Linked DNA regions of Homo sapiens: regions 1, 2, 3, 5, 6 and 7 are each reported to be linked to region 4. Evidence: microRNA targets listed by miRTarBase, many of them from high-throughput screens and not tested one by one. Region 4 holds a microRNA gene; each other region holds the end of a gene's coding sequence. Distances are from middle to middle.
What was found. The annotated mature microRNA hsa-miR-6828-5p reads AGGAAGCAAGAGAACCCUGUGG and lies in region 4 at 2,310-2,331, opposite strand. An mRNA with a match to its seed (bases 2 to 7 or 8) in the 3' UTR can be bound and repressed. Matches are read on the target gene's strand: a 7mer-m8 pairs with bases 2 to 8, a 7mer-A1 pairs with bases 2 to 7 and ends in A, and an 8mer does both.

Region 1: miRTarBase lists SLC12A8 as a target of hsa-miR-6828-5p. Seed matches in the 3' UTR shown: 7mer-m8 at 1,109-1,115.
Region 2: the mRNA of SOX17 is a reported target of hsa-miR-6828-5p. The part of its 3' UTR that is shown has no 7-base or 8-base seed match.
Region 3: the mRNA of EPHX4 is a reported target of hsa-miR-6828-5p. The part of its 3' UTR that is shown has no 7-base or 8-base seed match.
Region 5: miRTarBase lists AP3S2 as a target of hsa-miR-6828-5p. Seed matches in the 3' UTR shown: 7mer-m8 at 1,015-1,021, 7mer-m8 at 1,343-1,349, 7mer-m8 at 1,612-1,618 and 8mer at 2,135-2,142.
Region 6: the mRNA of PODXL is a reported target of hsa-miR-6828-5p. Seed matches in the 3' UTR shown: 7mer-A1 at 1,536-1,542 and 7mer-m8 at 2,683-2,689.
Region 7: miRTarBase lists CBX4 as a target of hsa-miR-6828-5p. Seed matches in the 3' UTR shown: 7mer-A1 at 1,034-1,040.

What each region holds. Positions count from the first base shown.
Region 1 is chr3:125,080,484-125,084,762 of GRCh38, reverse strand. It overlaps SLC12A8 (solute carrier family 12 member 8), which reads left to right. Exons shown (of 14, transcript NM_024628.6): 14 at 711-2,119. The coding sequence ends at 873. It overlaps LOC124906278 (a long non-coding RNA gene), which reads left to right and starts at 2,697. Exons shown (of 3, transcript XR_007096045.1): 1 at 2,697-4,279.
Region 2 is chr8:54,459,727-54,463,983 of GRCh38, reverse strand. SOX17 (SRY-box transcription factor 17) reads right to left here. Exons shown (of 2, transcript NM_022454.4): 2 at 3,092-4,257. The coding sequence ends at 3,989. Among named protein-coding and RNA genes, the nearest start is that of SOX17, 3.9 kb to the right of the region's middle.
Region 3 is chr1:92,062,520-92,066,798 of GRCh38, reverse strand. It overlaps EPHX4 (epoxide hydrolase 4), which reads right to left. Exons shown (of 7, transcript NM_173567.5): 7 at 3,261-3,744. The coding sequence ends at 3,513. It also overlaps the pseudogene LPCAT2BP. Among named protein-coding and RNA genes, the nearest start is that of SETSIP, 11 kb to the left of the region's middle.
Region 4 is chr3:170,421,160-170,425,438 of GRCh38, reverse strand. It overlaps MIR6828 (microRNA 6828), which reads right to left and starts at 2,336; the gene lies at 2,277-2,336. CLDN11 (claudin 11) reads right to left here. Exons shown (of 3, transcript NM_005602.6): 2 at 2,112-2,276. RefSeq lists an enhancer at 1-84.
Region 5 is chr15:89,831,896-89,836,174 of GRCh38, reverse strand. AP3S2 (adaptor related protein complex 3 subunit sigma 2) reads left to right here. Exons shown (of 6, transcript NM_005829.5): 6 at 532-4,279. The coding sequence ends at 660. It overlaps ARPIN-AP3S2 (ARPIN-AP3S2 readthrough), which reads left to right. Exons shown (of 10, transcript NM_001199058.2): 10 at 532-4,279. The coding sequence ends at 660. LOC124903552 (a long non-coding RNA gene) reads right to left here and starts at 266. Exons shown (of 2, transcript XR_007064754.1): 1 at 1-266.
Region 6 is chr7:131,500,651-131,504,929 of GRCh38, reverse strand. PODXL (podocalyxin like) reads left to right here. Exons shown (of 9, transcript NM_001018111.3): 9 at 422-4,279. The coding sequence ends at 619. Among named protein-coding and RNA genes, the nearest start is that of PODXL, 54 kb to the left of the region's middle.
Region 7 is chr17:79,829,992-79,834,244 of GRCh38, reverse strand. CBX4 (chromobox 4) reads left to right here. Exons shown (of 5, transcript NM_003655.3): 5 at 1-1,089. The coding sequence ends at 286. Among named protein-coding and RNA genes, the nearest start is that of CBX4, 7.3 kb to the left of the region's middle. RefSeq lists an enhancer at 1,550-2,371.

The sequences.
Region 1 (4,279 bases), 45 Mb from region 4:
TTAGGGATGGAGCTGTGACTGGGTCTGCCTTCCGTAGCAGCTGCCTGGACAGCCAGCCTGAGCTTTCCTCACTCCTTTCTTCCTCTTAGCACTTTCCCTATGCATCCCTAACATTTTTCTTTCCCAGTTTATTCCAACCGAAACTGTATGCAGAGACTCCAGTGACAGTGGGATCCATATGGGACTTGCTCTTCACCTGAGGCCACCTTGGTGTCAAAAGCCTTTGCAGTCCCTCTTAGCTGCTTGCTGTGTGAGCCTTAGCTCTTGAAATCACTCCTTATTCAACTTTCTTTTCAATAGACCTACGAGAATTTTCTCTTTCTGCTCTTCTCAATTTTCCAGCCTCTCCATTCCATTATTTTTGACAAAAAAAAAGGCAAAGAAAAGCTACAGAGCCCCAACATGATACCATTTGGAGGGCAAAACCTCTCTTTGTTGGTTATTTCCTATCAGGTAGGTACAGCTTTATACTTTTCTACTTAGGGAGGGTAAATATCACTCTCTCTGTCTCTTTTTATTTTATTTGATACTTTGTATTTCTCATGCTTTGAGTTCATATATACCTGTACATATACCTTTCAAGAATTATGTTTTAAACATTTAAATACATGTGTGTTTACAGATAATTTCTTTATGCCCAGTAGACTCACCTCTACTGTTCAGTCTCTGTTCTGTCCTTCTCACCATCCTCTGTGTCTCTCTCACTGCAGGAGCTTGCGGTCCCCTCAGGAGCAGATCATCTTGGCGCCGTCCCTGGCTAAGGTTGACATGGAGATGACTCAGCTCACCCAGGAGAATGCAGACTTCGCCACTCGGGATCGCTACCACCACTCCTCCCTCGTGAACCGGGAGCAGCTGATGCCTCACTACTAGATGCAGTGCTGGGACCTTCCTCTTTTGGAGCTGTCCCATGTACAGTGGACCCAAGCTCAGGACCTTCGTGGAGCTGCTTCTCCAACCTGAGAAACTCAAGACCCATCCTCCCGCTGTCACTTTGGACAATGGAAATCTACATTTTCTTTTCCCTTTTTTTTTTTTTTTGAGACAGAGTCTCGCCCTGTCACCCAGGCTGGAGTCCAGTGGCACAATCTTGGCTCACTGCAACCTCTGCTTCCCGAGTTCAAGCAATTCTCCTGCCTCAGCCTCCTGAGTAGCTGGGATTATAGGCATGCACCACCACACCCAGCTATTTTTTGTATTTTTACTGGAGACAGGGTTTCACCATGTTGGCCAGGCTGGTCTCGAACTCCTGACCTCGTGATCCACCCGTCTCAGCCTCCCAAAGTACTGGGATTACAGGCGTGAGCCACCATGCCTGGCCAGAAATCTATGTTTTCTTAGAACATGTGGAAGAAGGAAAAAGACAAAAAAGGAAATCTGGATTCTGAGGACCACGTCTCACCCAGGGTGACATCAGGAATGGTGCTAGCCTCTGCAACACGACACCCAGTCTGAAGAGCTCTATACAGGTACTAAGACTAGCAGGGGACACCAAGACTCTGCACAACCAGATTGCTTGTGCAGAGGGCCACAATAAGTGTATGTTTTATATTTTATTGTATTATTTATTCAAAAATAAATAATACACTCACATGTTTCCACACCCAAAAGATATATAGAGTGAAAAGTCTCCCTCCAATCCTTATTCTCCACCTGCTCAGTTCCTGTCTACCCTGGCCTAGAGGTAACCACTATTCTCATCCGTACATCCAGCATTTCTTTATGGATATACAAGCAAATGGGAATGTAGAGTCTCACATTCTCTCTTTATACACAAAAGTTAGCACGTTATACACATGTTCTGCACCTTGCTTTTTTCCCTTAACAATCTATCTTGGAGACATTTCATATCAATTCATATGCCATTTGTTCATTTTTTTCATTGTATAAATGTGTTATAATTTATTTCGCCAGTTCCACAATGATGAGCATTTGGATTCTTTCCAATCTTTTGCAATGACAATCAGCTCTGCAGTGAATAATCTTGTACAAATGTGCAAGCATAAAGTGTATCTCTAGGATAAATTCCCAAAAGTGGAATTGCAGGATCAAAAGGTACATGCATTTGTAAACTATTATTGTTTAGTGAGGGTCTTTTTAATTAAAGAATTAACATGAATTGCCTAATGGTGACTCATATTCTCAAAAGAATTTGTGGTCCTCAACTCCTGGAATGCCTTCGCAGCTGTTTTGCAACATGAAAGGCATGAGGGGACAGGACTCTTTTGGTTTCCTTATGAGCTCTGCCTGACATTCATCACAAGCACCCAGTACCGGGGGCCGTGGCAGTAGCTTTCCCCAGAAAAGTTTAGCACTTGGCCCAGGGTCAGAGGCTTCGCCATCAAGCCATGGAGGAAAGTACTGTTGGATCACTTCTGGCTCCTTCTTCTATAGTGGAGGTTCTCATGAATCAGTGGGCTAACAATCACCTGGGATGCTTGTCAAAAGTGCAGATTTCAGGCTGGGCTTGGTGGTTCACGCCGGTAATCCCAGCACTTTGGGAGGCTGAGACGGGTGGATCACTTGAGGTCAGGAGTTCGAGACCTGCCTGGCCAACATGATGAAACCCCGTCTCTACTAAAAATACAAAAAATTAGCTGGATGTGATGGCGGGCACCTGTAATCCCAGCTACTTGGGAGGTTGAGGCAGGAGAATCGCTTGAATCTGGGAGGCAGAGGTTGCAGTGAGCCGAGGTCACACCACTGCACTCCAGCCTGGGCAACAAGAGTGAAACTCTGTCTCAAAAAAAAAAAAGTGCAGATTTCTGCATCTCACCCCTAAACTTTTTATTTGGCAAGTCTGAGATGGAGTCCTAGACTTTACATCTTTAACAAGTGCCTCAGGTGATTCAATGCAGGCAGTCCTTGGACCGCATTTTGAGAAATGCTGAGCTGTTGAATGGAAGGGGCTTAGTGTGGGTGAGGGCTGGGAAGGTCAGGATGAAGGGTCAGCTAGATCCTAATGTTCTCTCCTGGAAGATGAGGTTTCATTTATTATTACTGTTCTCACAATCTGGCTTTAGTTAAATACCAGATTTCTGAGCATCATTAGAAAGCAGAGTCTGAGTTGGCAGTAGGCATGTAGGAAGGAGAAATGCTGAAAAAGGTTGTAGCTATGAAGGGCTAAGTTGGGTGACCTTGGAGGACCTTTTTATTTATTTTTGAGACAGGGTCTCACTCTGTCATCCAAACCGGAGTGCAGTGGCATGATCATAGCTCACTGCAGCCTCCACCTCCTAGGTTCAAGTGATCCTCTCACTTCAGCTTCCTAAGTAGCTGAGACTACAGGTACACACCACCACGCCTGGCTAATTTTTTTGGTATATTACCCAGGCGCTTTTTAAGAAGAAGCTGTTCTAGTTTCCTGTGGCTACTATACCAAATTACATAAATCGGATGGCTTAAAAACAACAGAAATGTATTCTTTCACAGTTCTGGAGGCCAGACATCTGAAATCAGTAACACTTAGGTTAATTCAAGGTGTCAGCAGGGCCGAGCTCCCTTCAGAGGCTCCACGAGGGATTTATTCCCTGCCTCTTCCAGCTTCTGGTGGCTTGTGATCACATCACCCAAATCTTTAAAGCCAACATTTTCAAATCTCTCTGTTCCATCTTTACATCACCCTCTCCTCTGTGTATATGAAGTCTACCTCTGTCTCCTTTCTGTAAGGATACATGTGATTGCATTCAGGGACCACCCAGATAATCCAGGATCCTCTCCACATCTCAAGAGCTGTACTTTAATCACATCTGCAAACGCTTTGCCAAAAGAGGAAACATTCACAGGTTCCAGGGAATAGGACGTGGGTCTTTTGGGGGGCCCTTTTTCAGCCTATCACAGAACCTTTACTGAATCTGCTTTTTTGAATTCTACATAACAAGCTAAAAAAGTAACCACTCTGTTTAAGCCCTTTGGGAGCCCTCATTGCCTCCCCATTGATGGATTAGGTAAGGACATGATCTAACCTTGGCCAAGAGCACCTGAGATGGGGTCTCAGGGCTTCCAGAGATGGTTGCCCTTTCTCATGGATATTGTTGGCCCCACACATGATGCCTGTATGAGACTCATCGAGTTTCCAACTCTTCTAGCCCAGGAGTTGCCTGCCTTACACTGCCCTGGATTGTGTGACAAAGAGTTTAAGCCACTTCAATCCTGGGGTTCCTGCTCATTGCATGGGATGGATTGAGAACAGTATCAGGCACTGCTCGCCTTAAGCACCAAGTGCAGGAGCCACCTGTGCTCCCAAGGCGTGTGCTTCAGTTGGTGCTTTGTCACAGTC
Region 2 (4,257 bases), not on the chromosome of region 4:
ATTTGGGGAATACTTGTTAGGAAGTCAACTTTGGCAAAAGGTTTAAGACTTCGATTCAAGTGGAAAAAAAGATTGTCAAAGCTAAAATTTCTTCAGCAAGAAGAGATTTTTAAAATATTTAGCCAAATGGTTTCTTGAATCTTAGCTACAGAGAAATTTTTACATTAAAGAACATCATGATTATCACAACAACTTACTTAGCACTTGCGTGTACTAAGTGCTGCACTAAGACATTGTAGTTTCCAGTGTCTTGAACCAACCTGGGAAAAATATCAGTGGTGAGGGTTCAGTGTTTGTATATGGAGGATGGTGCAAACTGAATTATTCCCATAAAGCTGCTTGGTAATTCCAGAGAAAGCACACAGCCACCTTCTCATTAGAAGGAGGGTAGGGATAGGTGTTATGGTGAAAAACTGAGATGCTGCTGGATCCCAGGCCAGAGGACCTAAAGAAATACTCTCTCCATTAGGAGCCCACCCTGTGGAGGAACTTGAGCCTACTCCAGATGGGGACTGGGTAGGAACATCAGTGCCATTTTTCTTCAGATGAATATTGTAGACCCAGAAGGAAGCACCTTGTAAGCAGGAAAAATAAATTTGTGCTGAAATAATGGATGTAAAATACTTCTCCCTGTCCACTATTGTCAAAACAAATCAAAGAGGAACAGGAGGAGGAAGGGAATGTTGAACATTTATTATGTGACAGGCACAGTATTAAAAACAAAATGAAATGGGACATTTTAAAATGTTAGGCTGAGATGATGTCTTTTGGTTCATTGCACCCTTTCCATTTTATCTGAATTCCTTTGGCTTGTATGTGCTTTTCCTAATATCAGTACAAATTCAAGCTGATATCTTCTGCAGCGTGATTCAAACTAAAGAGGCAATAATCTACTGATAAGAATAATAAGTAAATTGTTTCATTGCAATATTATCTCTTAGCTGCTTGTGTAAGTCATTTACAAGTTTATCTGTAATTTATCAGACCCACCTGGTAGCTTTAATAGAGATGTAGTCAGTATTCTCATGGGGGAAAAAATAACCTCTTCCTTATTGCTCCGGATGTCTCAAAGGCATGCACATTCTGTACTGGCATCAAGTCTGGCTATCTTAGCTCATAAAAGAGCTGGATTCTTACCTCCTAATGTAATTCTAAAGTACCAAATTAGACATGGGTAGAAAAGCAATGTATCCTTTATGTGTATTTGTCTCCAAAATAAAACAGTAAAAACTTGAGACAGATTTAATATTTTGTCTCAAAAATTCACTAGCTGGTACCTGTGGTCACTTCATCTGAATCTACTTGAGGAAACAGAGGTCTGCGTATTTGGTGATGTCATGGGGGTATCCAGGCACTTGGTAATGTCACAGAGGGGATTTATGCATTTGGCGATGTCATACCTGGTGGTGGGGGGAGGTCTGTTCACTTGGTGATGACATAGAGTCGTTCGACCTAGGCAGAAGTTTTACATTCTGTCGTTCACTTTAAAACTATAATGGTCTGTAATGGACCCCAAAGCTCTATTTCTAATTTTGCCACCAGGGCCCACATCCCTGTACTTTAAAATGAGAAAGGGTTTAAGGATACCAAATGTTTTGGTAATTTAAAACTACCAAAAAAAAAAAAACATAGAAGGAATAAGACCTAGTATTTGATAGCACAACAGAGTGACTATAGCCAATATTAATTTAATTGTACATTTTAAAATAACTAAGAGTATCATTGGATTGTAACACAAAGGATAAATGCTGCAGGGAATAAATACCCCATTTTACATAATGTGATTATTACACATTGCATATCTGTATCAAAACATCTCATGTACCCCATAAATATATACCCCTACTATGTACCCATAAAAACTAAAATTAGGAATTAAAAAAAATCACTAGCTGCTACCTGCAGTCACTTGATCTGTGTGCTTGAGGAAAGAGAAGGAATTGGCTTGATGCTTCTTACCCAAAAAAAATTATTTGTGAACACCAATCCCTCCATCCATGTAAATGCATGAACATTAACTTAACAATTTTAGCTCTTACTGCTTTTCCACCTGCGCCTAGTGAGTAGTTAAAGATGTAATTTACAGGACTTTAGATCTTTCCCCTAAGAACTCTTTTTCTTTTTCTTTTCTGTACTTATCTTAATATCGTTAAGAGATGGCAGCCAAGGGTAAAACTGAGTCTTCTTGGGCTGACTATGATGAAAATGCCAAGTGTAATCTGAGCACAGCCCTGAACTTGGGCTGGTAGCCCTTCTGTCCACTTTATCTACTGGGAACTCTTGGGACACCCTGCAGAAGGAGCTCAGGCTGGAAGCAGAAACAACCCATCTGAGCTAAGAGAAAGAATTTAACCTTTTTAAAGGCAGCCTGTTATGCCTGACAGAATAAACTTACCTTTCCTCACTAAAACTGTCTATCCTTCACATTCCAGGAATCCCTTCTAAAAAACATATTCCATGCCCTTTTTCAAGAGAATCCAGCCAATCATTTCAGCTCAGACATCTCTCCCATGTAAATGCTGGAAGCTATCCTCCAAGCCTTTCCTTTTTCTATAGCACTTGCTGCTAAGGATAATTATATGGTTTCTCATCAACAGAATGTAAATTCTCCCAGTGCCCATGAATACATACTGGCCCAGAGGAAAACAGGTGAGAAATATGTCAAAAGAACTTGTAATACAAGCCTTCATATACATGGCAGGGGAAGGCCTGGTGCCTCCTTTTCTTACAAAATAGGAAAAATAGCACCTAAACCTGCAGGTTTGTTGAGGCTCACACTGTTTAGAATGGCATTGAACAAACATCTGGCACAGGAAATGCCCATTATAAGTCACCTGTTTCCATTTATGTCTCAATCTCAAATGTGGTGAGACGTGCCACAGCGATTAGTATGGCAGATTACAGGGGCTGATCCCCATCTTTTACTCACAACCCTGTAACTGTTTCTTCTTGATAAAGTAATGGTGATAGATAGGGACACTACACACAAACCATTCATGGATTCTCCCCTAAGTCTGTGCAATCGTCCGTATATGTATTAAATCTAAAAGCAAAAAAAAAAAAAACCAATCAAATAAAATGCTAAAGTGTATTAAAAGTTGTCATAATGCAAATTTTATTTTGATTAGTTTTTGTGACTCCTTTATCTTAAACCCAGCGATGCTTGCCACTTCCCAAGGTGTAAAAATGTGAAGATTAAGGTAAACTGAATGTCGAGGAGTGTAAAGAGATGGCAAAACACAGATAAAAACATCCAAAAAGCCTCTGGGGGCAGGTCAAGCTTATGATTCAACAGTTAGAAAACCAAAATTACTTGGACATCCCCTTCTACTTAAAGTGATATACTGGAATTGAAAATATTAACTGTTAGTTTTAGAAACTAAGATTACTTGAAGTAGGCTCATTCCAGAATGCTTTTCTTTTTTCCTTCCTGAAACAATTACATCAAACTTAGATATCCTAATGTTTATTTTTAGATATACTCCTTAAAGGCATTTATGTTCACCCTTTTCGAGGATGAGAAATTTACATTAACTAATAAACTTAACATTGATCTTAAGAACTGGTTTTTGATAAGACTAGTGTGACAGAGGTACTAGTAGAGCAAAAAAGCAGGATTCCAGATTTTATTTTTTAGAAGATTGAAAAAACACACCCAGGACAACATTTCTTTGATCAATAAACTTTCAGGAAATGGAGGAAGCTGTTTTGGGACACATTCAAAGCTAGTTAACTTGAACTTGGAAATAGGGTTTTGACAATCCAACTATGGGAAACAAATCTCTGAACAAATTTTAAATGAAACCTCACCCCCCCAAACTGTTCAAGTGGCAGACAAAATAAATTACCATAAATTATATGCCAACACACCTTTTAAAAAACAACAACAGCAACAACAAAAACCCAGGAGTCTGAGGATTTCCTTAGCTCCTCCAGGAAGTGTGTAACACTGCTTCTGGCCTGCAGGCTGGGGCGGATCAGGGACCTGTCACACGTCAGGATAGTTGCAGTAATATACCGCGGAGCTGGCGTCGGACACCACCGAGGAAATGGCCCCGTGGCTGTCGGGGAGATTCACACCGGAGTCATGCCCCTGGTAGGGGAGGCCCATCTCAGGCTTGCACACGAAGTGCAGATACTGTTCAAATTCCGTGCGGTCCACCTCCCCGAGGAGCTCGGCGGGCTGACTGGGGTCCGTGCCGTCCCGGCAGGGCAGTGCCTCCGGAGGGGGCGACGGCTGTCCGGGGCCCGGGGGGT
Region 3 (4,279 bases), not on the chromosome of region 4:
CTCAAATCACAAGCACCAGCTGTGTTGACAGTAGGAATTTCCCAGCCAATGGGATCTGCACATTTTGACTTGCAGAGACCACTGAGGGTAACCCTGCCACCACACAGGGGATTGAGTCAAAGAAAGTGGACCGTGGTGCTGTAACGAAGATAGGGGCCTTGTCTTGGGTTGCCTTTTTCCCTTTCACTTTAGCCAGGAACCCAAGTAAAAAGAAAGCCACCTGAAGCATGAGCTTGAGTACTGGTTTCACCAGTTTTTTTTCTCCAACTCTTGGCAGGGTTGCAGGATTTGAGCAGGATAGCCAAAGGTGGAAAGCATGGCCACTGGCCAGATGAAGAGGAAGGCGATGCAGGACATTCGTACCCACGAGGATGATGCAGGTCCAGCACCATGCACAGAGGCGTGTCTGCTGAGGATACAAGGACTTGATTAGCTCCTGCGTGATCCCAGACTCCTTCGCCTCCAACTCAGAGTCTGTGGATGCAGAGCCGTGAAACCGACTTAGCAGACCCAGGCTGTGTGTAGCCTGGATTTGGGGGCAGCCTTTGACATGCACCCTTCCCCACATCCAACTGCTTTTTCTGTTTGCACATAATTAGAACTGTTAGAGGAAATTGTAGGTTAATAGAAAATGCTGCATTACCTTTAAAATCAGAAAAATCAAAGATGGTAAATGATGTAACAGGAGAATTTGAATCATATCAACAGCACATTCTTTCTTTCTTTTTTTGCAAACATCTTGCTTTTGACATATGCCTAATAAATTATTTTCACATAGCAATTTCTGATGTTAAATTAGGCATATATTATATACTACTAGGGATATATTAATTTGAATAGATGAATATTATTAATAATTACAACTTTTAATTTAGGTGCCATTACCTGTTTTTATTTACTGTGAGCTGCTTTGGCAGCTAGTAAATCAAATTCACTTACTTGCCCTACCAATAGATTTCTACAGAGATAGTAATAACTGTTTATCCTAAGAGGTTTAACTCAAGATGGCACCCTTGAGGCTTTATATCTGTTACAAGTACTTTTCCATATCTATTAAAAATTAGAGTACATTCATTGTAATAGGCCGGAATTGCCCATGGAATGTTTGATTGATAAATTCTTAAAATTAGTCCACATGAACTTGTCAGCTTCCTAAACTGACATAAGTAGCAACAACAACAAATCTTAAAATCACCTTTGTCAGTAACAGGTTTTTATTAAAATAAGTCAGGATTACTTTACTGTGTCAACACGTCCCATTCTTTCCCTTGTTGCTGCCCTTCTGGAGGGATCAAGAGGGAAGCAACAAGTTGGTATGAACCAGGATTTTTCTATACCTTGTGGCATTTGCAACTCTGACAATGCTCTATAGAATATTCCTATGTTTACTAATGGCTAATTTGAATTCCTTTTCCCTCCCAAAATTAAAAGTCAAATTGTAGGTTCCTGAGAGATATGGCCATCTATTGAAACACACCAGATTACTGCTGAAACAGGAAGAGTGGCGTGGATACCACAAGTCTGCTAAATGGTATCTGGTGTAAGTGGGATCATGGGCTTTACCACCAGATGGCTCTAGGTCAGATCCTAGCTCCAGAACTTACACTATGGGCATTGGCAAAGTTACACGTTAAATCACATTTTTACTATTTATAAATTGGTGATACCTACCTTGCATGTTGTTACGAAGCAATGTGTTGTATAGAGAATTGGATTTTTGTTGTAAATACAACTTGCTGTGATACAGTAATGAGAATTCTTAGGGACATTCTCCTTTGTTCTGTCACGATCAGAACTATGCTTAATGAGGGAAGCAATCCTTTCACCAATTTAGGGCTTATTTGTTCTGTGATGTGATTTGGCAGTGTTACTGGTTGCCTCCCATGTTAAAGGGGAACAACCCAAAAGAATGAGTAGTAGTCCCCTGAGTTGGTATTGTTCTCTATTCTGTAACTCTTTTCAACTCTTACTTATAATGTTCATTTCTACTCTTGAACCTTTATTTAATTTGACTGCATTCTATGTATGCGTCTTTTTTTTTTTTTTTTTTTTTTTTTTTTTTTTTTTTTTTGCTCTTGTTGCCCAGGCTGGAATGCAGTGGTGCAATCTTGGCTCACTGCAACCTCTGCCTCCCAGGTTCAAGCAATTCTCCTGCCTCAGCCTCCCAAGTAGCTGGGATTACAGGCATTTGCCACCATCCCCGGCTAATTTTTGTATTTTTGGTAGAGATGAGGTTTCACCATGTTGGCCAGGCTGGTCTCGAACTCCTGACCTCAGGTGATCCACCCATCTCAGCCTCCCAAAGTGCTGGAATTACAAGCATGAGCCACCACACCCAGCCCTTAAGGCTTCTTATGGGAAAGTTCTATGTTACCACCTTATCTTTCTTTTATATTCCCCACCCCCCCGCAGTGCCTAGCAGTGTGCCAGATATATTATTTATTCATTAAGCAAATGTTTGAGTGCCTACAATATGCCAGGCCCTTAGTCTAGACTTGAATATGTATCAGTTAATAAAACAACAAAAAAATCCCTGCCCTGTGGAGCTTAGATTCTAGTGCATATAAGATGTGTAATATTCAATTCTCGTTGCATTGAATGGGGTAAAAGGATCCTTTCCTTCCTTTTCCCTCTCCCTTTCCCTTTCCGTTCCAACAGGGTCTCACTCCATTGCCCAGGCTGGAGTGCAATGGCCCAATCATGGCTCACTGCAACCTCAAGCTCCTGGACACAAGCGATCTTCTCACCTCAGCCTCATGAGTAGCTGGGACTTCAGGTGTGCACGCCTACGCCTGCCCACTTTTATTTTTTATTTATTTTTGGTAGAGATGAGGTTTTACCATGTTGGCCAGGCTGGTCTCAAACTCCTGGTCTCAAGTGATTCTCCCGCCTTGGCTTCCCACAGTGCTGAGATTACAGGCATGAGCCACCACGCCCAGCCAAGATGTCAGCTTTAAAAAATGGTTTAATGTTCCCAGTATAAATAGTATATGGCCCATTTTAAAAATGCATATTCATTTAGCTATATTTGCCTTCAAACTAATAGATATACTATAAATCCAAAGAGATTCGATAATATAACTTTTTAATGGTTAAAAATAGTAAAAAGAATTTTTGAACAATAGAATGAAAATTTATATTATTTCAGGTTTGCCTTATAATATGGCACAGCTAATCTTTAATATACATTTGTAAAAGGCACCATATGTTAACAGAGTAAAAAAAAGCAAGAAACCAAAATGGAAGCACTTACTCCAAACTTCCTTTTTGTACAAGTGTATATATTTTAAGGCAGATGCTTGTCTGTGCAAAATACACCAGAAGAAAATCAACATTGTATTATATGTTCACATGATCTCAGATTTTTTTCAATACCATTTGTCAGGATATTTATTTATGATAAAGCACATTAAAACAGTTTTTTTCTAATAAAACATAAAGAAGTTGATGAACAATTTTTAAAAATTATTTAGAGATTTCATTACAGACCCTTCATAGAAGATAAAGAAAAGTCAATCTTTTTTTCTTGTTTCTTCTTTTAGAAATGTCCATATCAATTTGTTCACTATGTCAGGTTGGTCTTGCTGAAGCCAATGACTGGCTTCTGACAAAATAGTTAGCCTGAAATAGTTTTTAACATAAATCTTTGTGACTTCAGCCATCTCAACCTCCATGAATGCGTCATTCTCTCCCCACAGTAGTAGTGTTGGAGTGGTCACCATGTGATGTTTGAGAGGCAGGCAGCTATAAAAACAAAATACATGGGCTTGAGATTCACTGTCAAAGTTAAAATGACATTTTCCTATAGTGCCCCAGTAGGTCATACATTCTTGAAGTGAGCAATCTTGCCTCTAAAAGGGTGAAAATTGTGTTCTTGGGAGGGTGAAAAAAATCTTACCCTTTGCATATATAAAGCATGGATATACATACAGTACATAAACAGATACTAAAATTTCACAGGGTGGGGGTGATTAGGGAAAAAAAAGTCTAAAAAGGCTCCTTAGGAAAGTGATAATGAAAAAGTGATTGAGAAACAATGCATTAAGTAATCAACATTTACTATAAAATATTTAAAAGGCTATTTAAGAAAAGACCCAGTAAAATTTAAATTGGATGAGGCTAGTAAAATGTATAATAAAAGCTGTAAGTTAAATAGGAAATTCATCACTATGAGGAGTAATTTGTTTCTTTTTTTTTTTTTTTTTTTTTTTTTTGAGATGGAGTTTCACTCTGTCACCCAGGCTGGAGTGCAATGGCACGATCTTGGCTCACTGCAACC
Region 4 (4,279 bases):
TACGTATACTTTGCTTTTATCCCTCTATTTTCCAGGGTTTGTATGTTTGTTTTAGTGTGTTCTCTCACTTGTGGATACCTGTGACATTCATATGGAAGGCCAGAATTTCTAAACATGAGCACTCAACACAACAGACCCACCTTTTGGCTCTGCCATCCTCAGAGCCCAAGAGAACCTTCCGGGGCTTCTGTGAGAATGTGAGGAAAGTAACAAACAGCAAGTGTCTAGGAGAAGGGTTTCACCTGGATTCTGCAAACCAAGTTTACTTGTGGAGCTTTCACTTTCCTGTTGGAAAGGGAGTCAGACAATAGACCTGACCTCCATAGAGCACTGCAAGAGGGAGCCCCTGTGAGTCAGATAAAGCACCGGATGCTGATATGTGTTCCGTGTGACGCTGGCACACAAATTCTTTGTGGCTGGAACCAAAATTTCCACATTCAGATTTTTCTCTGGAAATTAGTGGCCTTTTCACTCCTGTTAACACACACACACGCGCGCACACACACACACACACACACACACCCTTGTGGCTTCACAAGAACCTGCAAACCTCCGTCCCTTTGCAATCCTGGAAAATGGTGCCCCACCTCTCATGTCCCCTCACCTTACTGGTGTCATTATGAGTGTGAGGCCTCCAGATGGGAGGTACCCACCAAGTGGCATCAACCCACACAGAACCCTGACCCCTTATCCTTACCCCTCAAATTCATCATCTGATATGCCAATCTGGGGGTATGAATTCCTTGTTTCAGAAGAAGGTGATTTTATATCTAACCCATTACCAGACTAATTTGTTGTCACTGATATGCGCACTTTGCAACAAGAGTTGTTCTTAAAATTCATATTGTCTATTAGGATTTAGAATGTGCTAATGAAACTAGCATCTGAGGGAAAAAAACGGAGAGAAATTAAATCACTGACGAGAAGAGAGCTAGAAGGACCCTCCATAGGTTGTTAAATGAAGCCCTTTATGTGCAGGTATAATCAGCAAAACCAAATGAGCACATGCCATTTCCTGTCCCTGGACTGTCCCTCCCCTCAATTCATGACCAGCCCACCTCCTCTTCAAGTCTCAGAGCTTACTGCTGGGTTCTTCCACTCTGGAAACTCATCCAGTCTGGGTTAGGTGCCTTCCTATGTGTATGCACAGACTATATACCTTTTCTACATGAGCACATACCATATTCTATTGAGGTTTCCAAGTACACTCAAAGCAAAGACGGCCTATTTTCCCCAGTGTCCCCAGTACCTACCATGGTGTCTGGCCCACATGCTCAAGGAAGGCTTACTGAGTTAAAGGACGGAGCCATCACCTGGTGGTCTAACCACCCTCAACTCCTGACTTTTCTCTTGCCCTCTTCTTTACTTTTTTCTTTCTTTCTTTTTTCTTTTTCTTTTTCTTTTTTTTTTTTTTTGGAGTTGCACTCTGTCACCCAGGATGGAACGCAGTAGCGTGATCTCAGCTCACCGCAACCTCTGCCTCCTGGGTTCAAATCATTCTCCTGCCTTAGCAACCCCCGCCCCGAGTAGCTGGGATTACAGGCATGCACCACCATACCTGGCTAATTTTTGTATTTTTAGTAGAGATGGGGTTTCACCATGTTGGCCAGGCTGGTCTTGAACTTCCAACCTCAGGTGATCCGCCCACCTCGGCCTCCTTCTTTATTAACTGAGCTGCTCAGTCTTGCCTGCACATAAGCATCACCTGGGAAGCTTTCAAAAAATATCTTTGCCTGGCCTGATGCCCAGAAAATTCTGATTCAATTGATCTGCTGTGGGACCTGGGCATAGGTGTTCAAAAAGGATTCCACTGTGAAGACTGAGAAGGCTTCCATCTTTCAGGTCTTTCCCTTAGGTATTTCCTACCTTCAAAATCCTCTTTCTCTTTTTAAACTTATCTTCATGGTCAGTGACTCCCAGAGACATTACTTAGCCCTCTGTGTAAACTGCCCATAAAATACAAAGGGATACAGATTGTGGGAGTCCATCCCCCACTGGCTTCACTTGGCTTCCTTTCACATTTCTCTTGAACTTGAGAAGGCAGCAACCACAAGATCTGAGATTCATCAGGCTCCCTCATAGGTAGGGTACCACTGAGAAAGCTGTCTTACCCAGCAGAATGAGCAAAACACCAGCCAGCTGGGCCCGCCTGTACTTAGCCACACCGGGCTCCTGGCCCATCCGGATGCAGGGAAGAACAGTCAGCAGCAGTAAAATGGCCGGCAGACCCAGGACCGAGGCAGCAATCATCAGGGCGCGGCAGGCCTGCACGTAGCCTGGGAACAAGAGAGCAGATGGGAAAGGTTAGACCACAGGGTTCTCTTGCTTCCTGAGCCCTGCCTTAGGGGAATTCAGCACCATCTCCCTTCCTCCTTCTTGGTGGATTCCAGGACTTAGAAGGTGCTAATGTTGTCCAAGGTCACTAAGCACTTTTTAACTTTTAAAACAACTCAGCAAGAAAAAAGGGGGCTGGAGAAACTAAATGGGGACCCCTGGTTTAGGCCACTTGGCCAAGCTTCCAGGATGGAGGGGCCAAGAGTCCATTTACATTATTACATCCCCCTGAGAAAGTTCAGATGAAAACTGAAATCTCCCAAGAATCATTCTGTGAGGGCCTCTATTGGTTCCAGTCTGCTATTGATAGCTCTACCTGTGTGACCTTGGGCAAGTTACTTAACCATGATGTCTTATTTTCCACATCTATAAAGTAACAACAGGCCAGGCATGGTGGCTCACACCTCTAATCCCAGCACTTTGGGAGGCCAAGGCAGGTGGATCTTCTGAGGTCAGGAGTTCAAGATCAGCCTGGCCAACAGGGCGAAACCCCATCTCTACTAAAAATACAAAAATTAGCCTGGTGTGGTGGTGTGAGCCTGTAGTCCCAGCTACTTGGGGAGGCTGAGGCAGCAGAATCGCTTGAACCTGAGAGGGGGAGGTTGCAGTGAGCTGAGATCGAGCCACTGCACTCCAGCCCAGGTGACAGAGCGAGACTCTTTCTCAAAATAAATAAATAAATAAACAAACAAAGTATTGATAATAATATAATAGTACCTACATCTCTGTAATAGAATTCTACTGAAGATTACATTAGTTAATTTATTTAGTGCTTAAAACAGTGCCTATACCAAATCCTCAAAAAAGGTTAGTTGTTATCATTGGTGTTCTTTGTCTGTCTCAGTGCAGCGCTTTCATCTTCAGGTGTCCTAGGTGATTTTCTCCTAACCATGTGCTTTCATTCACATTGGCTGTGGCCCTAACCCAGACTAAACTAAGACTCAGGCTTCCTCTCTTTGCTGTCTCCCCAGAGGCTGCTGTCCTCATGGATCCTGCCCCTAAATTGTTGGACCCCATCTCCTGCCTCACCCACAGTGCCCTGGGCATCCTTCCCCAACTGTCCATCATTGCTTAAAAGGCATCTCTCCAGCCCTCAGGGTTCCTGGAGGGCAGACACCTGCCTTGGTATTCACGGAGTTAACACAGTGCCCACAACAGATCATGGAAACAATTGCGAATCAAGGAATAAGAGAACTGAAAAATAGAAGAGTAGAGCAAAACTACATGAACTTTATCCTGTCAAGTAAAATGCCAAGTAAAAACTGTATTAAGAAACAGATTACAATATGTGTCACATTTATTTAGAATAAATCTGACAAGATACTGGGAGAATTTCACAGACAAATTTGTTTCACTTTCAAATGTAATGTTTCTCATTAAAACTCTCCCTCCTCTTAAAAAAGGTGGGGGGGGTCACATTTATTACCCTCCCTTTTTTGCTCAGAAGGAACTAGTACTAGTGGCCTGGGTGAGGCAGAGTTCATAGCAAAGCCAGGAATCTAGCCGACATCTGCCTCACACACCACGACCCTCACGTGCAAAAAGGCCTAACTTCAACGCTGTCTCTTAGCAAGGAACGTTTTGCCAGAATTCGGACTTCACAAGGGCCCTCTTCCAGCACTGCCCATCTCAGCTCCTTCAGAATTAAAGATAATCAGTCAAGTGTCTACTGACTTGAAGATCTCCAGAAAGGAGCTCCAGGAAGTCTGAGGCCCATCCCCTGACCCAGCCGTCCGCCTCTGCGGCTTGTAGAGAGCCAGTACTCACACAAAGCAGGCAGTCAACTGGCAATGCAGGTTCTGAAATCCATGGCACTGGCTGTCCACATGCTACAGTGCCAAGGCCATGTCCGGACACCAAAAGATAGGGACAGAGGACTGTTCCTGCCTCCACCCAAAGTATGAGGGAGGGGGAAGGCAGGAAGGACTAGCGCCGCCCCCCACCC
Region 5 (4,279 bases), not on the chromosome of region 4:
CCTGTGCCAAACCCCATCTAACCTCAAGATTGTTTTGTTGGCTACTTTTGAGGAATAAGGGGGGAAAGTTAAAACTTCAGTTGTGTGTGCTCAGTTTGGAATTTTTCTAGGCATCCTTCACCTGTTATTTTGTTTGTTTGTTTGTTTGAGACAGAGTCTCACTCTGTTGCCCAGGTTGGAGTGCAGTGGCGTGATCTCAGCTCACCGCAACCTCCGCCTTCTGAGTTCAAGCGATTTTCCTGCCTCAGCCTCCCTAGTAGCTGGGACTACAGGGGCCCGCCACCACTCCTGGCCAATTTTTGTATTTTTGGTAGAGATGGGGTTTCACCATGTTGGCCAGGCCTATCTCGAACTCCTGACCTCAGGTGATCCACCCACCTCGGCCTCCCAAAGTGCTGGGATTACAGGCGTGAGCCACCACACCCATCCTGCTTGTTTGTTTTTGTTTTTGCTTTTTTTTTTTTTTTTTTTTTAGCATTAAGCAGATAACAGTGAGAATTTGTCTCATACTCGCCTCTCATTTCTTCTTAGGGTGGCCTTTCAGCAGCCCCTGCGCGGGCTGTGTCTGCTGTGAAAAACATCAACCTGCCAGAGATTCCTCGGAACATCAACATTGGCGATCTCAACATCAAAGTTCCCAACCTGTCCCAGTTTGTCTGAGGATCAAGTATTGGCCTGAAATAGAGTCCTTAAGACAAGCAAAGACAAGCAAGGCAAGCACGTCTGGAAACAGAACCCATTTTGAGCCTTAGAAGAGTCAAGCCTCAGGACCTGGAAACTTTGTGTCTGGGGAAGACTGTTTGGCATGGAATAGGGAAGGGATTCCTATTGACACTGCTCGGGTGCACCCAGTTCTCACATGTGCAGTCATGCCGTTCTCTGATGCATACGGCCACTGCAGATGTGAGGGGCCCTGCCTTCCTCAGTAGGGAGTCAACATGCCCAAGTCATTTGCACCTTTACCTCTCACATGGATGCTCCCAAGGGTTAGGGACTGCATTGAGCAGGCCCACCTGCTTCCCAGAACCTCCTCACTAGGGCTGAGCACCTTCTCTGAGTAGAGTCTTCATCCTTAGCACCACAGACTTCTGAGGTCCTGTGCCCTTTACTTGCTGGTGAGGTGTCATAGGTAGAAAAGGGCTGGCCCTTCAGATCTGGGGGTGTGGTGAGTGGCAAGTAAGGGCAGAATTTTAGGAGAACCAGAGTCACCCGCTGGCTCTACTGAGATTGTTACACCCAGAATCCTTTTGTGTTTTTTTGTGGTTTTTTTTTTTTGAGGTGGAGTCTTGCTCTGTCACCCAGGCTGGAGTGCTGTGGTGCAATCTCGGCTCACTGCAACCTCTGCTTCCCGGGTTCAAGCATTTCTCCTGTCTCAGCCTCCCCAGTAGCTGGGATTACAGGCACCCACCACCATGCCCAGCTAATTGTTGTATGTTTAGTAGAGACAGGGTTTCACCATGTTGGCCAGGCTGGGCTCGAACTCCTGGACCTCAAGTGATCTACCCGCCTTGGCCTCCCAAAGTGCTGGCATTACAGGTGTGAGCCACCGTGCCCGGCCACCAGAATCCTTTGGTATAGCCAAGCCTTTTGGTTACCGCCTCATGAAGAATATGCTTCCCGCATTGTCCTAGTCCCAGTTGTATTCTCACAGGTGTTATGTGCAGGACACAATCCAAATCATAAACCTGGCTCATGCCCAACACATTTCTGCTAATAGGGAGAGGGACCCACCACACACCCACACATGCCAGAGGTCCCTCCTCACAGAGGAGAGGGCCTGTGTCTGTAGAAGGTTAAAGCTGACAACATGTGAAACATCCCAGAATTATGACTCTTCCCAAGTTTAAAATACATTCTCCTCATGAGAGCAGAAGGTTTGTTGCTGTGTTGTGAATGATGAGCTGCCTCCATAGGGAACCCACTGCCACCTGGGCCAGCTTCTGGAGCATGAGAACCTGAGCCAGGGTCACCCTTGTGGGGCCTGGACATGACGCACGCTGGCTGCGACTAGGAGCAGGGCTGCCTCTTCTCCCTCCCCAAGGTCTGCTTGTGGGCACGCTCTGTTCCCTCAGGTGCCATTCTCCCAGGGCTTAGGCGCCCATAAATGTTCTTTCTGTGGTGGAGTAGGGCCTCCTGCTTCCATACTGTCGCATGGGCTAGATCTCAGGTGTGGTGTTGAGCCACCTTAAGATGAGGGCTGCTTCGCAGTAAAGTTTCCAGCCTGGGCCCCTCTTGGGCCTTCTGGCTGGGGACCCTCAGCCTCCTGATGCTGTTGCAGGGCAGGTCTGAGAGGGTGCCCAGCAGCACCCGGTGTCAGGGCCACCTTGTTTTCCATTTTTGAACAGCGCTCCCTGTGGTTTGTGCCCACTGCTCAATACAGCCTCCGATCCTCACTCTTGAAAGCTCCATGATAAGCACAGAGATGGGCAGTGTGGGTCAGAAGGTGGGCCGCTTCCTGTGGAAGAGGGAAGTGTAGGTGAATAGATATCAAAACCCCTGATGTCATTCTTTTGAGGGGTTGGATTTTCTTTTTTCTGGCAGACATTTCAGTACATTCACATTTCTCTCACATTTGCTGAATGTGAGATCAGAATAAAGGAGATCGGCGTTTATTTCGTACCTTCTGTAAGTTGGCATGAGCAAGATCATTCAACTGTCCTTACAACAGGCATTCTTATCCCCATTTTGCAGATGACGAAAGTAGACCCAGCTCCAGTAACCTTCCCTTAGATTACACGGGGCTGAGATCTGAGACTGTTCACTTGACTCCACTGTCCTTTTCTTTCCTCGCTGCTTAAGATGGCTTCTCCCAATGTTATCATCTTCTTTTTTATAGATAAGGAAACTGAGCCTCAGAGAGTCTGACTTCTCACAAACCGTGGTCTAAATAGGCTTGATTTTCTAAGGTGGCCAGTGATCATGTCATAGAGTATAAGAGCCAAAGAGTCGTCTGTGTCCCTCCATTTAACTGATGTTGAAGCCGAAGCCCAAGGTGGTAAATGTTATGTTGAGGGTCACAAATCCAGAGCCACATCCCTCTTCTTGAGTTCGTTTGTTACGTGGTTTAATGCATTACTGCAGGACAGCCCTTATGCTAGATTTCCTGGGATAGCCTAGATTTTGAATGTTTTGCCTGCCAGAAACCAATGGTTTTAAAAAATCATTGAGTGGTCCTACAGATTCAAAGCGAGCATCCAAACATCCCTCACATGGCCTCTTACAATGACATAAAACTGAAGCCCACTTTTTTATTTGGAAAACTCAATCCCTTTGGACAAGCCACAATAATTTTTCATTAACTACTTGAGGTTGCCTGCAAATTCAGCTAGCTTTCCAGCCTGCTATCAGCAAAGCCATAAACATCTTTTTTAAAAATAGGTTAAGGTTGGCCAGGTGCGGTGGCTCACGCCTGTAATCCCAGCACTTTGGGAGGCCGAGGCGGGCAGATCACGAGGTCAGGAGATCGAGACCATCCTAGCTAACACAGTGAAAACCCATCTCTACTAAAAATACAAAAAATTGGCCAGCCGTGGTAGTGGACACCTGTAGTCCCAGCTACTCAGGAGGCTGCGGCAGGAGAATGGCATGAACCCGGGAGGCAGAGCTTGCAGTGAGCCAAGATCGCACCACTACACTCCAGCCTGGGCAACACAGCAAGACTCCGTCTCAAAAAAAAAAAAAAAAAAAATAGGTTAAGGTTGTATAGAATACTAGGCTTTCCTTTTTTTGTGAGATGGGGGTCTCACACTGTGGCTCAGGCTGGAGTGCAGTGGTGTGATCATGGCTCACTGCAGCCTCGAAGCCCCGGGGTCAAGTGATCCTCTCACCTCAGCCTCCTAGGTAGCTGGAACCACAGGCACGCAACCACCACTCCTGGCTAGTTTTATTTTTTTAGTAGAATAAGGTCTCACTATGTTGCACAGGCTGGTCTCTAACTCCTTACCTCAAGCCATCCTCCCGCCTTGGCCTCCCAAACATGTTGGGATTACAGGTGTGAGCCACTGGACCTGGCCAAATACTGGGTTTTCAGTGCTCACTGCCACTAATAAAAATCTGAAATTCTTTCATTATGCAATTTCTAAGTGCCTGGTGAGGGCCAAGCTCAGTTCTAGGCTCTGAAGATTAAGAGAGAAACAAGGCTCTGTCTGCTCCTGTTGTCTCTGTGAGCATCTTTGACAGAGTGCTCAGATTGTTGGGATATAGTGCATCGGACTGGCAGCCTGAATTTGTGGAGACCGCAGTCAGTAACTTTGTGATATATGGAATATTTAGAGGACAG
Region 6 (4,279 bases), not on the chromosome of region 4:
ACACCGTACCCATCCTGCCCAGGCTTGAGGGCTCAGTCACCCAGCCCGAGAGAGGTCATTTTTTAATAGTGTTTTTCCCATTCATTATGATAGGTGAGGTAGGTGCCTGGAGAGGAGGTTTTGGGGGAAGGGATGAAGGGGAGGAGAGAGCTTAGAGGACTCTGGAGAACAAAGTCCATCTCCACTAACTTCACAGGTTCTGCCACCAGGGTGAGGGTGAGGGGCAAGTCTTTGTTCCCAACTAGTTCCGGGCAGGCTGAGAGCCAGAATGACCACCAGGAGCAGCCAGCCCCACAGGCGAGCAATGAGGGCCTGCTTTAGCTACAGTGGGGCTCCTGAGTGGGAGGGGTACGTACATGCGCTGTATTAAGCTCAGAGCCCTCTGAAACCCCCTTCTCACCGGTCACCTTCCCCACTCTAGCAGCGGCTAACAGAGGAGCTGCAGACAGTGGAGAATGGTTACCATGACAACCCAACACTGGAAGTGATGGAGACCTCTTCTGAGATGCAGGAGAAGAAGGTGGTCAGCCTCAACGGGGAGCTGGGGGACAGCTGGATCGTCCCTCTGGACAACCTGACCAAGGACGACCTGGATGAGGAGGAAGACACACACCTCTAGTCCGGTCTGCCGGTGGCCTCCAGCAGCACCACAGAGCTCCAGACCAACCACCCCAAGTGCCGTTTGGATGGGGAAGGGAAAGACTGGGGAGGGAGAGTGAACTCCGAGGGGTGTCCCCTCCCAATCCCCCCAGGGCCTTAATTTTTCCCTTTTCAACCTGAACAAATCACATTCTGTCCAGATTCCTCTTGTAAAATAACCCACTAGTGCCTGAGCTCAGTGCTGCTGGATGATGAGGGAGATCAAGAAAAAGCCACGTAAGGGACTTTATAGATGAACTAGTGGAATCCCTTCATTCTGCAGTGAGATTGCCGAGACCTGAAGAGGGTAAGTGACTTGCCCAAGGTCAGAGCCACTTGGTGACAGAGCCAGGATGAGAACAAAGATTCCATTTGCACCATGCCACACTGCTGTGTTCACATGTGCCTTCCGTCCAGAGCAGTCCCGGGCAGGGGTGAAACTCCAGCAGGTGGCTGGGCTGGAAAGGAGGGCAGGGCTACATCCTGGCTCGGTGGGATCTGACGACCTGAAAGTCCAGCTCCCAAGTTTTCCTTCTCCTACCCCAGCCTCGTGTACCCATCTTCCCACCCTCTATGTTCTTACCCCTCCCTACACTCAGTGTTTGTTCCCACTTACTCTGTCCTGGGGCCTCTGGGATTAGCACAGGTTATTCATAACCTTGAACCCCTTGTTCTGGATTCGGATTTTCTCACATTTGCTTCGTGAGATGGGGGCTTAACCCACACAGGTCTCCGTGCGTGAACCAGGTCTGCTTAGGGGACCTGCGTGCAGGTGAGGAGAGAAGGGGACACTCGAGTCCAGGCTGGTATCTCAGGGCAGCTGATGAGGGGTCAGCAGGAACACTGGCCCATTGCCCCTGGCACTCCTTGCAGAGGCCACCCACGATCTTCTTTGGGCTTCCATTTCCACCAGGGACTAAAATCTGCTGTAGCTAGTGAGAGCAGCGTGTTCCTTTTGTTGTTCACTGCTCAGCTGATGGGAGTGATTCCCTGAGACCCAGTATGAAAGAGCAGTGGCTGCAGGAGAGGCCTTCCCGGGGCCCCCCATCAGCGATGTGTCTTCAGAGACAATCCATTAAAGCAGCCAGGAAGGACAGGCTTTCCCCTGTATATCATAGGAAACTCAGGGACATTTCAAGTTGCTGAGAGTTTTGTTATAGTTGTTTTCTAACCCAGCCCTCCACTGCCAAAGGCCAAAAGCTCAGACAGTTGGCAGACGTCCAGTTAGCTCATCTCACTCACTCTGATTCTCCTGTGCCACAGGAAAAGAGGGCCTGGAAAGCGCAGTGCATGCTGGGTGCATGAAGGGCAGCCTGGGGGACAGACTGTTGTGGGAACGTCCCACTGTCCTGGCCTGGAGCTAGGCCTTGCTGTTCCTCTTCTCTGTGAGCCTAGTGGGGCTGCTGCGGTTCTCTTGCAGTTTCTGGTGGCATCTCAGGGGAACACAAAGCTATGTCTATTCCCCAATATAGGACTTTTATGGGCTCGGCAGTTAGCTGCCATGTAGAAGGCTCCTAAGCAGTGGGCATGGTGAGGTTTCATCTGATTGAGAAGGGGGAATCCTGTGTGGAATGTTGAACTTTCGCCATGGTCTCCATCGTTCTGGGCGTAAATTCCCTGGGATCAAGTAGGAAAATGGGCAGAACTGCTTAGGGGAATGAAATTGCCATTTTTCGGGTGAAACGCCACACCTCCAGGGTCTTAAGAGTCAGGCTCCGGCTGTAGTAGCTCTGATGAAATAGGCTATCCACTCGGGATGGCTTACTTTTTAAAAGGGTAGGGGGAGGGGCTGGGGAAGATCTGTCCTGCACCATCTGCCTAATTCCTTCCTCACAGTCTGTAGCCATCTGATATCCTAGGGGAAAAGGAAGGCCAGGGGTTCACATAGGGCCCCAGCGAGTTTCCCAGGAGTTAGAGGGATGCGAGGCTAACAAGTTCCAAAAACATCTGCCCCGATGCTCTAGTGTTTGGAGGTGGGCAGGATGGAGAACAGTGCCTGTTTGGGGGAAAACAGGAAATCTTGTTAGGCTTGAGTGAGGTGTTTGCTTCCTTCTTGCCCAGCGCTGGGTTCTCTCCACCCAGTAGGTTTTCTGTTGTGGTCCCGTGGGAGAGGCCAGACTGGATTATTCCTCCTTTGCTGATCCTGGGTCACACTTCACCAGCCAGGGCTTTTGACGGAGACAGCAAATAGGCCTCTGCAAATCAATCAAAGGCTGCAACCCTATGGCCTCTTGGAGACAGATGATGACTGGCAAGGACTAGAGAGCAGGAGTGCCTGGCCAGGTCGGTCCTGACTCTCCTGACTCTCCATCGCTCTGTCCAAGGAGAACCCGGAGAGGCTCTGGGCTGATTCAGAGGTTACTGCTTTATATTCGTCCAAACTGTGTTAGTCTAGGCTTAGGACAGCTTCAGAATCTGACACCTTGCCTTGCTCTTGCCACCAGGACACCTATGTCAACAGGCCAAACAGCCATGCATCTATAAAGGTCATCATCTTCTGCCACCTTTACTGGGTTCTAAATGCTCTCTGATAATTCAGAGAGCATTGGGTCTGGGAAGAGGTAAGAGGAACACTAGAAGCTCAGCATGACTTAAACAGGTTGTAGCAAAGACAGTTTATCATCAGCTCTTTCAGTGGTAAACTGTGGTTTCCCCAAGCTGCACAGGAGGCCAGAAACCACAAGTATGATGACTAGGAAGCCTACTGTCATGAGAGTGGGGAGACAGGCAGCAAAGCTTATGAAGGAGGTACAGAATATTCTTTGCGTTGTAAGACAGAATACGGGTTTAATCTAGTCTAGGCACCAGATTTTTTTCCCGCTTGATAAGGAAAGCTAGCAGAAAGTTTATTTAAACCACTTCTTGAGCTTTATCTTTTTTGACAATATACTGGAGAAACTTTGAAGAACAAGTTCAAACTGATACATATACACATATTTTTTTGATAATGTAAATACAGTGACCATGTTAACCTACCCTGCACTGCTTTAAGTGAACATACTTTGAAAAAGCATTATGTTAGCTGAGTGATGGCCAAGTTTTTTCTCTGGACAGGAATGTAAATGTCTTACTGGAAATGACAAGTTTTTGCTTGATTTTTTTTTTTAAACAAAAAATGAAATATAACAAGACAAACTTATGATAAAGTATTTGTCTTGTAGATCAGGTGTTTTGTTTTGTTTTTTTAATTTTAAAATGCAACCCTGCCCCCTCCCCAGCAAAGTCACAGCTCCATTTCAGTAAAGGTTGGAGTCAATATGCTCTGGTTGGCAGGCAACCCTGTAGTCATGGAGAAAGGTATTTCAAGATCTAGTCCAATCTTTTTCTAGAGAAAAAGATAATCTGAAGCTCACAAAGATGAAGTGACTTCCTCAAAATCACATGGTTCAGGACAGAAACAAGATTAAAACCTGGATCCACAGACTGTGCGCCTCAGAAGGAATAATCGGTAAATTAAGAATTGCTACTCGAAGGTGCCAGAATGACACAAAGGACAGAATTCCTTTCCCAGTTGTTACCCTAGCAAGGCTAGGGAGGGCATGAACACAAACATAAGAACTGGTCTTCTACACTTTCTCTGAATCATTTAGGTTTAAGATGTAAGTGAACAATTCTTTCTTTCTGCCAAGAAACAAAGTTT
Region 7 (4,253 bases), not on the chromosome of region 4:
CTCAGACCTGGATGAACCCATAGACTTGCGCTGCGTCAAGACGCGCAGCGAGGCCGGGGAGCCGCCCAGCTCCCTCCAGGTGAAGCCCGAGACACCGGCGTCGGCGGCGGTGGCGGTGGCGGCGGCAGCGGCACCCACCACGACGGCGGAGAAGCCTCCAGCCGAGGCCCAGGACGAACCTGCAGAGTCGCTGAGCGAGTTCAAGCCCTTCTTTGGGAATATAATTATCACCGACGTCACCGCGAACTGCCTCACCGTTACTTTCAAGGAGTACGTGACGGTGTAGCCGGAGGGCGTCGGAAGGGGAAGCGCCATTCCCGCGGGGGGGCGGGGAGCTGAGCACCTGGGGCCTCGGGGCGGGCTCCCCTCTCGCCAACCCGCCAACCGCGAGAGACCCAGGCTGGCCCCCAGGGTGAGGACGCCCGGAGCGGAGGTAACCATGTTCCCCCTGCGGCGGCTGTCAGACCTGGGCGGAGGCCCCTTCCACGCGGTGCCGGCGGGGCTCGCCCTCTCCTGCCCTTCCCCGCTGGAGATGGACCCCCGGAACGGACAGGGCAGCTCTGCGCCCGGCCTCAGAGTTCTAGTATTATATTTTAACCGTGCTAACTTGTCAAGTGCTGACTCTACTCCCGTTTGTACGTGGTGTTATTATTGAAATGTATTGTTTGAGCTCAAAAGGCCCGACCACCCCCCTTCGGGCTGCTATATATATATTTATTTGTAGGTATTTATATATTGAAATATAAAAACCTAGATTTATGGAGTTTCCTCTAGATCATGTTATATTCTATATCAGACAAACTATTTTCTTTTGACCTTTCTTCCCCTCCATCCAGTATTTCGGTTGATTTCATTTTCTCCCCTCTCTTCCCCTTCCACGAACTGCAATACCAGTAACCTTGGTATATATTTTTTGATACTGTACACATGGATGTCTTGTTTCTATGTGCAAAAAAAAAAAAAAAAAAAAGTTTGTTAAAAGGCTACACGAGCTCTCTAGAAACTGCTGCTACTAGAAATGTCTAAACTATAAGCTTCCAACTATTACCTGCTTGAATGTAAATATTAAATGGAGATGTTGAAGGTGCATTTTCGCTGTTTGAGATGAGCGGACCCCTCTCGCCACCAACTCCGCCTTCGAGCCCTGTGCTGAACCTTTGCACCAGCGAAGTGGGCTGGTTTTGCGGGCCGCGGCGCCGGCGCAGGAGGGTGACCCCGCTCCCTGGGAAGTCGAGAGGCGCCCGGCTGGGAAGGGGAATTCCTGCGGGGGGGTGGGTGTGGGAGCCGTCCCCGCCCCCAGGGCTTTCCGGCCGGCGGTGCCCAAGGCACTGGCAAACCCTGGGTTCTGGGTAGGGGAGGAGGGGGTGCAGGGGTGGGCGGCGCGGACACGCGGGTGGGGCTAGTCTCCCTCGCGGCACCCACTGGGCAGCGGCTGACCTTTGGCTCTCCTCCCCCGTAGCCTCCACCCCTGGGGCTCAACACACCCAGGCGCAAGCCCTGGCGGGGCAGGGAGGTTCCTTCTTAATAATCGCGCCCGGTAGGGCAGGTTCCGCGGGGCGGGGACCCCCAGCCTCTCCGGCGTCCCTGGCTGGCATCGCCGGCCCTGCCCCACTGAGGAAGCTGCCGAGGCCCTTGCTCTTCGGGCTCTCTCCCCGGAAACCACCAGGCCAGAGGCTCCCACTAGAGGCGCGGCGAGCGCTGCCGGGGTGGGGGGCGGGGGGCTTCCTGCGAGATGGATGGGGACGGGGAGGAGGGCGGGGGAGCGAGGCCTGCCACCCCCACTTCCTTAGCGAGGAGAGCTGGGACTCCTCACCCTTCTCCCTTAGGGTGGCAAGGCCAAGGCCCTTGGTGTCGCGGGGGAGGAAGGGGTTAAGGTCCCAGAGGGGGCGACGGGACTGGGCCGAACTCCGGGGTGCGGCTCAGCGGGCCAGGAAGCCGCGACCCGGGAACGCGGCGGCGGTGGCCAGCTTTCTGCAGACGCAGCGATCTTCCTCCTGGTTGAGGTGGCCGCACAGGGCCAGGGACCGCGGGGCTGGGGGCCTGGCGGGCGCGGGGCTGCTCCCGGCCTCCGAAGCCCTTCCCCTGCCCGCCTGGGACCAAGGGGCCCGGGTCTGTGCGGGGCGCCAGGGCGGAAGAGGTCAACGTGGTTCAGAGTGGTGGGGGGTGGCGAGGTGGCGAGAGAGCCAGTGTGGGGAAGGCTGGGGAGAGATGAGGGCCAGGAGGGCGGGGAGGCCTGAATGCGGACAGTGTGGCCAGTGTTGGCTGCAGGCCACCAGCGGCTGGACGTGGGGGAGGGGAGCCCAGCATGGGGAGGGGAGGGGGAAGGGAAGTTCTTTAAAAAAAAGCCGTTGGGAGTTTCTAGCCCTGGCTTTTGTGAGTGGTCCCTCCCACTCCCCGGTCACCCCAGCCCCATTTAGAGTGAGTTACACAGTCCCCTCCCCCTCCACGGAATGAATGTCCTTTGCCACCCCGGGGGTGGAAGGAGGGTGATCTTGCTTCTGGCAAACTGCCTGCTGGGCACGAGAATTGGGCCTGTCCTTCACCGGCTGGTACACAAAGGCCCATGCCAGGCGTGGACGTCGTCTCCCTGTTTTTCTAGCTGAGGAGAACTGAAGACTCGGGAGGGGAAGGGAAGCCTCTTGTTCAGGCCCACAGTTGGTGACCAGAGTGACCCTTAGCCCTTGGTGGTGTCCCCCACCCTGTGGGTGGCTTCTGCCTGGCTGGGTCTGGGGGTGGGAGAGGGGAGGTAGAGGGTGGCACTCCCGCAGAACAGGGAAGGAAACCGTTCCACTACCATTCCTGGAAAGGTGTGGCCTGCAGGTGGCCTGAGGCCTTCAAAACCAGGCCTGCTAGCAGAGCCCTCGAGTGGAGAAGGGTGGTCCTGGGCAGAGCCTGAAGCCTGAGGTCAGAAGGCAGACAACGGGCAGAGGCCACGGGTGGGTCAGGAAGAGCTGCTGGGATATCAGCCTGGTGCCAGACCCAACAGAGTGCCCAAGACCCCCTCTGCCCCTAGTGTCCGAGACCCCCTCTGCCCCTAGAGTGTCCGAGACCCCCTCTGTCCCTAGAGTGTCCGAGACCCCCTCTGTCCCTAGAGGGTCCGAGACCCCCTCTGTCCCTAGACGAAAGGGACATTTGCTGACCCTTCTGAGACATGTCAGGTGCCACTGGGCTTGTGACTCTTGTTCAATTCAGTCCCCACAGGGGTTGGGCTTCCCTGTGGGAGGAGAGTCTGAGGTCCTGATAGGCAGACAGCCTGCCCAGGTTCCATGCTCATTCTAGAGCCCAGCTGGCTGCTCCACCACCTGCAGGGAGACACGCCATGGCCACCTGCCCCAGGGCCTCTTGGACACAGGCTTTCGAAGGTGTTAAGGGTTTGGAAATGCTCCAAGGGGGCCAGGGACAGGAGGGTTTCTCCTCAAAGGGTCTTTGGGGTGGGGAGAGTCCAGGTGCCCCAGTTCTTCTGGGTGTAGACGGCCTCTTCCTAACCCTGGATGTCCCTCAGTGCCCACAAGCAAAGGGTAGTAAAACCTCTCTTTGAGCCCAAGCTCAGGGAAGAGAAGGAAAGCAGGGTGCTAGGTCTTAACCCTGCACACTAGCAAGCCCACGGTCTTTATTTTTCCTCAAAATGAATCTTTCTAATGGGGCTGAACCTCCAGCATTCAGGCTGGAGCTCACCCAGGCAGAGAGAGGAGCACTTGTGTATCCACCCCTGAAAAGCGAGCCCTGCCTACCCCAGCCCCGCCCCAGTCTCTGGTCTCCGTGCAGCCTGCCCCTCCCCCAGCTCATTTGCAGAAGAGCCAAGTTCGGCCCTTTAGCGTTTGCTCCATCCCTGGATCCCACTGGGTCCAGCGGAGAGGAGATCCACAGATCCAGGGTGCTTTGGGTCCAGTGTTGGCAGACTGAGCAAATAAAAATCTAGGGCGCCCAGTGAAATTTGAATTTCAGATGCACAATGCATAATCTTTTAGTGGAAGTTGTCCCATGAAATGCTGGAGACATATTTCTACTTTTTTAAAAAAAGGATGTGTTGTTTATGTAAAATTCAGACTCTAGTTGGCCATCCTGGATTTTATCTGGAAGCCGTATTTTGGTCCTGAGTCGTCAACAGGGTCAGTCCCTGCCCACAGGGATGTTCTAGTCCAGTAGGAGAGAGAAGGCATGGGAAGCTGAAAGCCACCTGTCCTGCCACTGTGGTTATGATACTGTATGTTGTCAGGCATAGAACAATTGCTGGATGACTGCATGATGGTAGG